Regions from separate parts of the Homo sapiens genome. Here all the other regions are linked to region 1. Evidence: fine-mapped expression QTL. A gene starts in region 1. Each other region holds a variant in brackets. All regions are shown on one strand. Distances are from middle to middle. Region 1 holds the start of USP45 (ubiquitin specific peptidase 45). Region 2 overlaps USP45 (ubiquitin specific peptidase 45). Region 3 has its middle 5.0 kb from the start of CCNC.

Region 1 (2,766 bases):
TACAAATTTACAAAACTGTGGCTGAGGATCTCCGTGATCTCCCCCACATTTAGAGCTTTGATAGGATGCACGGGACTCAACATATAGTTGAATTCATGGCTGACATTTATTACACAATGCAGTATGGATATAAAGGCTCATCATAATAGAAAAAGACACAAGCGGAGTCTGGAGGAATCACGTGTAGGCTCCTTATGCGGTCTCCCTCCCAAGAGGGGTCAAACAAAACACATCCTTCCTCCATCAGTGAAAATGCAGCAGTTTCCGCGCAGGGAAGCCCATTAAAGACTTGGTGTCCCGGATTTTTACAGAAGCTGGTAATTTCGGCATAAAACATACTGTTCAGCACAAACCCAAAAATCTAAGTTCCCAGATGCCAAACAAGCACCAACATTGCAAGCAGTCCTTTCTAAGGATAGCAGTCTTAAGGCCTGCTATGTTAACTCTTTTTAGCACAAATATGTTCTGGCCATTTTTCTCATGCGGTTTTCCAAACAATAAACTTTACAGTTTTCAAGTCACCATCACTTAACACTTGTCTTTTCTCTAAAGTAGGATGTGCAACTAAGTTGTTTAGAAAGCTTTGTTTTTAAACAGGCTATGCAAAAAGCCCATATCCTTAAGAAAAAAAAATCCTTTTTTCCTACTCTTGGGCAATTATTTATGGGGGTTGGAAAGAGAAGAAAAGGTCACTATCTCCTTTTATATACCAAGCTCAAAAAGATGAGCAGCACTTATGGTTTTGCTGTGTATCACGCTCAGTTCTAAGCACTTCACAAATATTAACCCACGCAACCCTCACAACCACCTTAGGAGATAAGTTGCTATTATTTTCCGCATTTTACACTTGAAACTGAGAAAGAGAAGTGAAGTGACTTGCAGAGGTCCCAAAGCCAGTAAGCGGTGGATGGAGATGCGGACCCAAGCAGTCCGGCCCCGGAGCTCCTAATACACGACGCTTCCAGAAAAGTCATTAGACAGGCTTCCTCCGGTCACCAACACACACACACCCCGAGGATGTGAAGAGAAATGCGCCGCGATGAGGCGGACGGAAAGGTGTGGGGCCGCCGCGCGCCCAGGTCACCAGGGGACTCGGGCCCCTCCCAGGCCAGCCCCGACGCCCAGGGCTTCTCCCGCAGCCGCATGGACCCGGAGCCGGCAGAGCGGCGCTCACACGGCCCTCGGTGACCGCCCGGCGCCCCCAGGGATCAGGAAGCCGAGTGGGGTGGGGAGCCTCTCTTCCAGCCTCGCCCACCCACAAGGGGGTCAAGGTCGCCGAAGCGAAGACCGAGAAACTGCGGCGACCATACCGCCGCTGCGACCAAAGCGCCGCGTTCTCAACTCACCCCGCCGGGCCGGGCCGCAGCGTCTACAACCTGGGGAGACTGCGCCTGCGCGCTCGTCCCGCTCCCGGCAGAGGTGGGGCCTCGTTCGCCCGCCCCCAGCCAGGACCGGGAGGGTTCCAGGCGGCGCGCCCGGGGCCCGGGAGCGCGGGGAGGGGTGAAAGGGCGGGGCCGGCTTGCGTGGCGCCTGCGTTCTGCGTGTCCGCAGAGCCCGGAGAGTCCCTGATAATCTAAGACTCATAGCCACCGACTAGCAATTTGTTAGGATCCTGGGCCAGCGTGCGCACCTCGGATGTTGCAGGAGTCCGGCTTAAGTCCCACTTGTTGCTGGGCACCTTCTGAAACAGCCTCCGATTTCCCTCCGTTACCCTCCTCTGAACTCTTTTTTTTTTTTTTTTTTTTTTGAGACGGAGTCTCGCTCTGTCGCCCAGGCTGCAGTGCAATGGCAAGATCTCGGCTCACTGCAACCTCCGCCTACCGGGTTCACGCCATTCTACTGCCTTAGCCTCCCGAGTAGCTGGGACTACAGGCGCCCGCCATCACGCCCGGCTAATTTTTTGTATTTTGTTTAGTAGAGACGGGGTTTCACCGTGTTAGCCAGGATGGTCTCGATCTCCTGACCTTGTGATCCGCCCGCCCCGGCCTCCCAAAGTGCTGGGATCACAGGCTTGAGCCACCGCGCCCGGCTCCGCCCCCACACCCCCGCCGCCCCCTGAACTCTTAAAGTCACATCTAACATTCGTCATATATTATTGTGGTTTTTCCCCCATTGCTGTTGTCTTACCTATCCTTCTCTCTTCCTAGCTAGATAGTACATTTCTTGAAATACACCTATACCTCCTCAAAGCCCGGTTATCTGTTGAAGTGGCCAGCACATTGCATGTTTAGTAAAAGTAGTTGGTTTGAAAATATTTTGTTTCAATCATGGATATTGCAAATGCCAACACTGGTTATGGATAGGTTCTAAAAGTCTCCTGATCTTTCACAACTCTTCAGCCAAGGGACAAATGTGGCTTTAAGGATAAGAGCATTGGCGTAGAAATCAGAAGATACGAGAGTTAAAATTGCAAACACTAAATTTTTCTTTAAAAACTCTTCTAACAGTATTTACATGTGGAGAACTTGGCAAAGAAGGTTGATATTTGCTTATATCGTACTTAACAAGGACCATTCATTTAACAAACATAATTGAGCACAGATATGCCAGTTGCTGTTACAGGTATAGAGGTACACTATCATTTTGGGGTTAGGATAATTTTTTTCCCTAGGGAAAAAGAAAATATTCCTCAAATAAGAAGAGGTCATGTGGTGTAATTTTGAAGGCAAAATTGTCTACTTCATAAATCAAAAGCTTTCATGTATTTTAACTTTGGATTTGACCTAGAACTTGGAAGAACAAGAACAAGCAAACTTGAGCAAATCT
Region 2 (2,766 bases), 69 kb before region 1:
TTCAAAATTTATCTTACGTTGAGTTTACAACAGATTGATAGGATCTGTGAAACACATTAGCTTTATCATTTATCTTACCAGTGATACAATTAGAAGTTTTAGGGAGGCCAGGCATGGTGGCTCACACCTGTAATCTCAGCACTTTGGGAGGCCAAGGCGGGTGGATCATGAGGTCAGGCATTCAAGACCAGCCTGGCCAAGATGGTGAAACCCCATCTCTACTAAAAATACAAAAATTAGCTGGGCATGGTGGTGGGCGCCTGTAATCTCAGCTACTCAGGAGGCTGAGGCAGAATAATCGCTTGAACTCAGGAGGTGGAGGTTGCAGTGAGCCGAGATCGCGCCACTGTACTCCAGCCTGGGCAACAGAGTGAGACTCCATCTCCAAAAAAAAAAAAAAAAGTTGTAGGGATATTTCTTCTGGATAGATTTCAGATAGGTAGTTCCCTCAAATAAGATTATATGGGTTTGCATTTTCAAGGCAGAGTTGTATACTTCCTGCTCTTTATTTAAATAAAAAAACTTGAAAATCTGTTCTGCCCAGTATTGTAAGCGCTCAGGTACAAATATGAATGAAACAATCTCTGCCTAAGTAACACAAGTATAGGGACAAGATTCTCAGTAAAATTCTCAGTGAAATTTGTAACTCACTAGACACTATCAGGAGATCAATAATTATGTAATTAAAAAAATAATTACCTGCAAAACTGGTTTCTTCTTGGTACTTCTGTTTGTTTTTAGTACAATTCTCACATAGAAGCTTATTATTCCCCATTAGTAATTCCATAGATGTAAACTGGTAGAGACAGGACTGAATTGAACATTCTTTAGAAGTAGTTATATAGCTCTGAGAAAGGGTCTGAAAAGCATTTTGGGGACTATAAGACCTCAAATGCTTCCCCTCTAAAAAACATAAATTATTTGAAATATTTAGTGGCTGATTTTCTCTGTCAAAATCTTGATCTCCAGTTACAGTGCTGCTCAAACGAAGTTCAGAAATAGCTTCTGCCATTTCCTTATCACCACTGTCAGTCTCCTTGGTGTACAGCAGTTTACCTGCTGACAGAGGGTAAAGGGGTCCATCTGGCTGCACACCGGATCCACTACTGGATCTGAACAGCCCAGTCTGCTTTGAAGCACTTTCAGATTCTGAAGGCTCACTGTCAGCATCAACATTGCTTTCAGAATGGCTGGCTTCTTTTTCACTGTCATCAGTAGGGCTTTCATTCAGACGTGACTCAGAATTCATGAGGCTGGCAAACATTAAAGAATCCCCATTCATTTCAAGGTTTTCATTTTTCTGGTATGTGACAGTTTCTCCAGATGACAATTTTCTAATACATTTTCGGTCATGAATTAGTTGACTCTGTAAGTTGACAGTGTTTT[CAAAGA/C]AAAGAGTCTTGTAACCTCATTGAAAATAAATGCCAATAATTCTTAAACATATCATAGTTATTAAATACCATTTCTCTCAGATCCATTTCCTAAGCCTACTGAAACTAAGATCACTAGAAGATATACTAAAAAATAGTTCTATTTTAAAAGTAAATCTTCACACAAGAAACTAACAACAGTGTAACAGAGGCTATTTGTGGGGAAGGAAATAGGACTTTTGTAGAACAGGGCTATGAGGGAGACTTTTTTCTTTAAAAGAAAAATCTCTTTTAGAGACAGCATCTTGCTCTGTTGCCCAGGCTAGAGTGCAGTGGCACAATCACAGCTCACCGCAGCCTCAAACTCTCGGACTCAAGTGATCCTCCCACCTCAGCCTCCCATGTAGTTACTACTACAAGTATGTACCACCATACCTGGCTAATTTTTTAATTTTTTGTAGAGATAAAGTCTCGCCATGTTGCTTAGGCTGGTCTTGAACTCCTGACCTCAAGCAATCCTCCCACCTTGGCTTCCCAAAGGAGACTTTTCAGTTACTGTATAAGCCTTTCCATACTTGTTCATTTTTAAACACTGAAAATGTATCTGTTTTTTAAACAAATTAAAAAGTAACAAAAGTAAACTATAAACTATTATGACACAGTGTTGCTTGGTTGCCATAGATCTGGAAGAAAATTACGGGAAAAAAATAACCTAAGTTTGGGAAGGGGGGAATCAACTAATTAAAAATTTTAAGCTACCTGAAATGTTTCACTAAAGTTTCCACACAGCTGATGGCTTGAAGTACATTTTTCTTTTCCTATACCTTGGCTGAAGGGTCAAGACAAAAAATAAAGAAAAGACTATCATGAGTAATTGATACTCAGTTTTAGTTATTCAGGGGAAGAAGAGTAAGTTATAAAAAGTGTCTTGCCTCAATTTTTTTTATCTGCAAAATCAGGAAAAATAACATTAGCCAACAAGTTCCACTCCGCTGAATTTATATAGTACTTTTTTTTGGAAACAAACTTTCCTATTATACATATAATACTAACAGTTGGTAAACAAAGCGGCCGGCCAGGAAGCTCGAACTGGGTGGAGCCCACCACAGCTCAAGGAGGCCTGCCTGCCTCTGTAGACTCCACCTCTGGGGTCAGGGCACAGCCCAACAAAAGGCAGCAGAAACCCCTGCAGACTTGAATGTCCCTGTCTGACAGCTTTGAAGAGAGTAGTGGTTCTCGCAGCACAGAGTTTGAGATCTGAGAACGGACAGACTGCCTCCTCAAGTGGGTCCCTGACCTCCGAGTAGCCTAACTGGGAGGCACCCCCCAGTAGGGGCACACTGACACCTCACACGGCCGGGTACCCATCTGAGACAAAGCTTCCAGAGGAACGATC
Region 3 (2,766 bases), 58 kb after region 1:
GCAATGGCTTCAGGCGATTCTCCTGCCTTAGCCTCCCAAGTAGCTGGGATTACAGGTGCCTGCCACCATGCCCAGATAATTTTTTTTTTTTTTTTTTTTTTTTGGATTTTTAGTAGAGATGGGGTTTCACCATGTTGGTCAGGCTGGTCACAAACTCCTGACCTCAGTTAATCCACCCACCTCAGCCTCCCAAAGTGCTGGGATTATAGGCATGAGCCACCGTGCCCCGCAATTTTGTTTTATACCTAATTCTGCACTCTTCTTCCTACAAAACAGTGAGATCCTTCATCTTTGTATAAATCTCTTATAGAATTTGGGGGATGTGCTTTGATATAACATTACGGATACAAAATTATGTTGAAAAGTGAGTACTACATTTAGAATGCAAAAAGAGCCACAACAACTTACTAGAGCTGTGGAAATTCAGGTCCTTTCCTTCTGTGAACTCTTTTAGGCAATTTACCACAAGTGCTACATAGAACCTCTTCCTGTTTGTGACCTGGTTTCTGCTTCCACCAAATGCCCAGCAGCTCCCAGTGCTCATGGGGGCTGTGCAAGTGACAGGCCTGGAGCTTAGGCTTCCTTAGTTTCAGAGTAAATTGCTTTTGAGGTCATTCTATAAATGTAGGTTGAATTAAATTGACTTGAACCAAAAGCTAACTTCATTTAAGGATATCTCTAGTGGAATAGATAAATTTACAAAAGCTGTTAAAATACATAGATATCCCAGCTTACCTGGATGCAAAAAGATCATGAGCTATCTAGCAGATTTGCCTTTTTTCGCTGATGATTTTTTAAACTTTTCTTTATAATTTTAGGAGTATTGTTTTTCAGACCTCACTACCCACTAATTTAAACTTGATGAAATAAATTAATGTTGTCCCTTCCAATTTTCAACTTACCTTGTGCTTTTCAAATGGGATGAGTTCAATAAATTCTTTTTAAAAAATTTTTTATTTTTCATTTTTGTGGATACATAGTAGGTGTGTATATTTATGGGGGTACATGAGCTATTTTGATACAGGCATGCAATGAGTAATAATCACATCAGGGTAAATGGGTATCCATCATCTCAAGCATTTATCCTTTGTGTTACAAACAATCCAATTATACTCTTTTAGTATTTTAAAATGTTAATAAATTCTTGATGCTAGTGTTCAATCTCCTGTGACAAGAAAGCATTTATCCTTTTTCTTCTTACAGTGCTTTCTCCAGCAGCATGAATACTATTTCTGGTAAACTAGGAGCTAGAAGGTTAGTGGCTTTATCAAGCTCACTTAGTTAAATAGCGGCAAGAATACCTGGAATCCGATTCTTCTGATTCACAGTGCAATAACTTTTTTATCCAACTAGACAGCTTCAACAGAACTACTATGATGAAAC[C/T]GCTATAAGCACATTATTCCAAGTTTGTAGTACAAGTTTTTCTTCTCAAACACAATTATTGGAGATAATCCTCTCATTTTTAATTAAATTATTATCATAATTACTTTGCTTTGTTATTAATAGTCCTTATTGTGAAAAACATCCTCTTCTTTATGTAGTCATCCCCTGTACCTCCCTTTATTTTTGTTCTGGTATACCTGTATTTGTTGAAGATGAATACACGTCTAAATTATGGAAAAGTGTCTTTGTTTTGTGCTATAAGAGAATAGCACAGACTGGGTAATTTATAATTGTCAACCAAGATAACAGAGAGAGGCTCTCTAAAAGAAAATGATCTTTATTTAGGAATAGGGCATTGCAATAGGAGTATGTGCACCCTTAGTAAACTACATGGGTATTTAGGGAGGTGAAGGAACACAAAGGGTTTTAAAGAAAAAATGAAAAGGATTACATAATTGTTTTGAGATAAGTTAGCCATGGCTACAAAGATCAATTACAAAGGTGACACCAGTCCAAGATTAGATAGGCAGTTGCTGGGCAGATATCCTCACAGAAATACTGTTTTTCGTGCAAGGTTGCTGTGGTGTTTGTGCAATGTTATGGTTTTTGCAGCATCTTTTGTGATAGTTTTTGTTACCAGGCATTTATTTGTGAGAACCCTTCCTTCATGGCCCTTTGAGGCTCTATTTTTTATTTTTGTTTTTTAACACAAGTGACTCCATTTTGATCTTGACAACTTTCACATAATGAACAGAAATGTATTAGCTCATGGGTTCTTGAGGCTGGGAAGTCCAAGATTGAGGGGCTGGCATCTGGTGAAGGCCTTCTTGCTACATCATCCCATGGCAGAAGGACAAAGAGAAGGTGAGAGAGAGAGAGAAAGAGAGAGAGAGAGCAAGACGGGGCCAAACTCATCATTTTATAAGGAACCCATTCCCAGGATAACAGCATTAATCCATTCATGAAGGCAGAGGCCTCATAGCCTAATCACTTCTCATTAGGCTCCACCTCTCAACATCATGACATTGGAGATCAAGTTTTCAACATGTAAACTCTGAGGGCATATTCAAACTGTAGTATAAAGTGTATTAGTTAAGAACTCAGTCTCTAGACTGATGAGGTTCAAATAATAGCTCTGCTGCTTACCAGTTGTCTAACCCTGGTCATCTACTTAGTCACTCTGAGTCTCAGTTTCTTCATCTGTAAAACAGGGATAATTATTGGTAAGTCATAGGGTTGTGGTGAAGTTTAAATGAACTTAAATGAAATTAGAGCAGTGCCTGATACATAGTAAAAGCTCAATAACTGTTAGCTTTTTTTAAATTTAGAACAAATCTGGACTCTATAACATGGACTATAAAGAACTCTGTTTTCAGAGATGAG

What was found. PIP is the estimated chance that this variant, and not a neighbour inherited with it, causes the effect.
Region 2: its variant is the best candidate, but not a certain one, in a credible set for the expression of USP45 in blood mononuclear cells (TOPMed, PIP 0.63).
Region 3: its variant is the best candidate, but not a certain one, in a credible set for the expression of USP45 in whole blood (TOPMed, PIP 0.76).

Annotation. Positions count from the first base shown.
Region 1 is chr6:99,514,046-99,516,811 of GRCh38, forward strand. It overlaps USP45 (ubiquitin specific peptidase 45), which reads right to left and starts at 1,378. Exons shown (of 18, transcript NM_001346022.3): 1 at 1,347-1,378. RefSeq lists enhancers at 386-1,293, 1,294-2,199 and silencers at 1,116-1,215, 1,266-1,635, 1,946-2,165.
Region 2 is chr6:99,445,098-99,447,863 of GRCh38, forward strand. USP45 (ubiquitin specific peptidase 45) reads right to left here. Exons shown (of 18, transcript NM_001346022.3): 14 at 700-1,366. Among named protein-coding and RNA genes, the nearest start is that of PNISR, 21 kb to the left of the region's middle. The variant CAAAGA/C (reference allele first, on the strand shown) is at 1,387.
Region 3 is chr6:99,572,297-99,575,062 of GRCh38, forward strand. It overlaps the pseudogene TSTD3. Among named protein-coding and RNA genes, the nearest start is that of CCNC, 5.0 kb to the left of the region's middle. The variant C/T (reference allele first, on the strand shown) is at 1,384.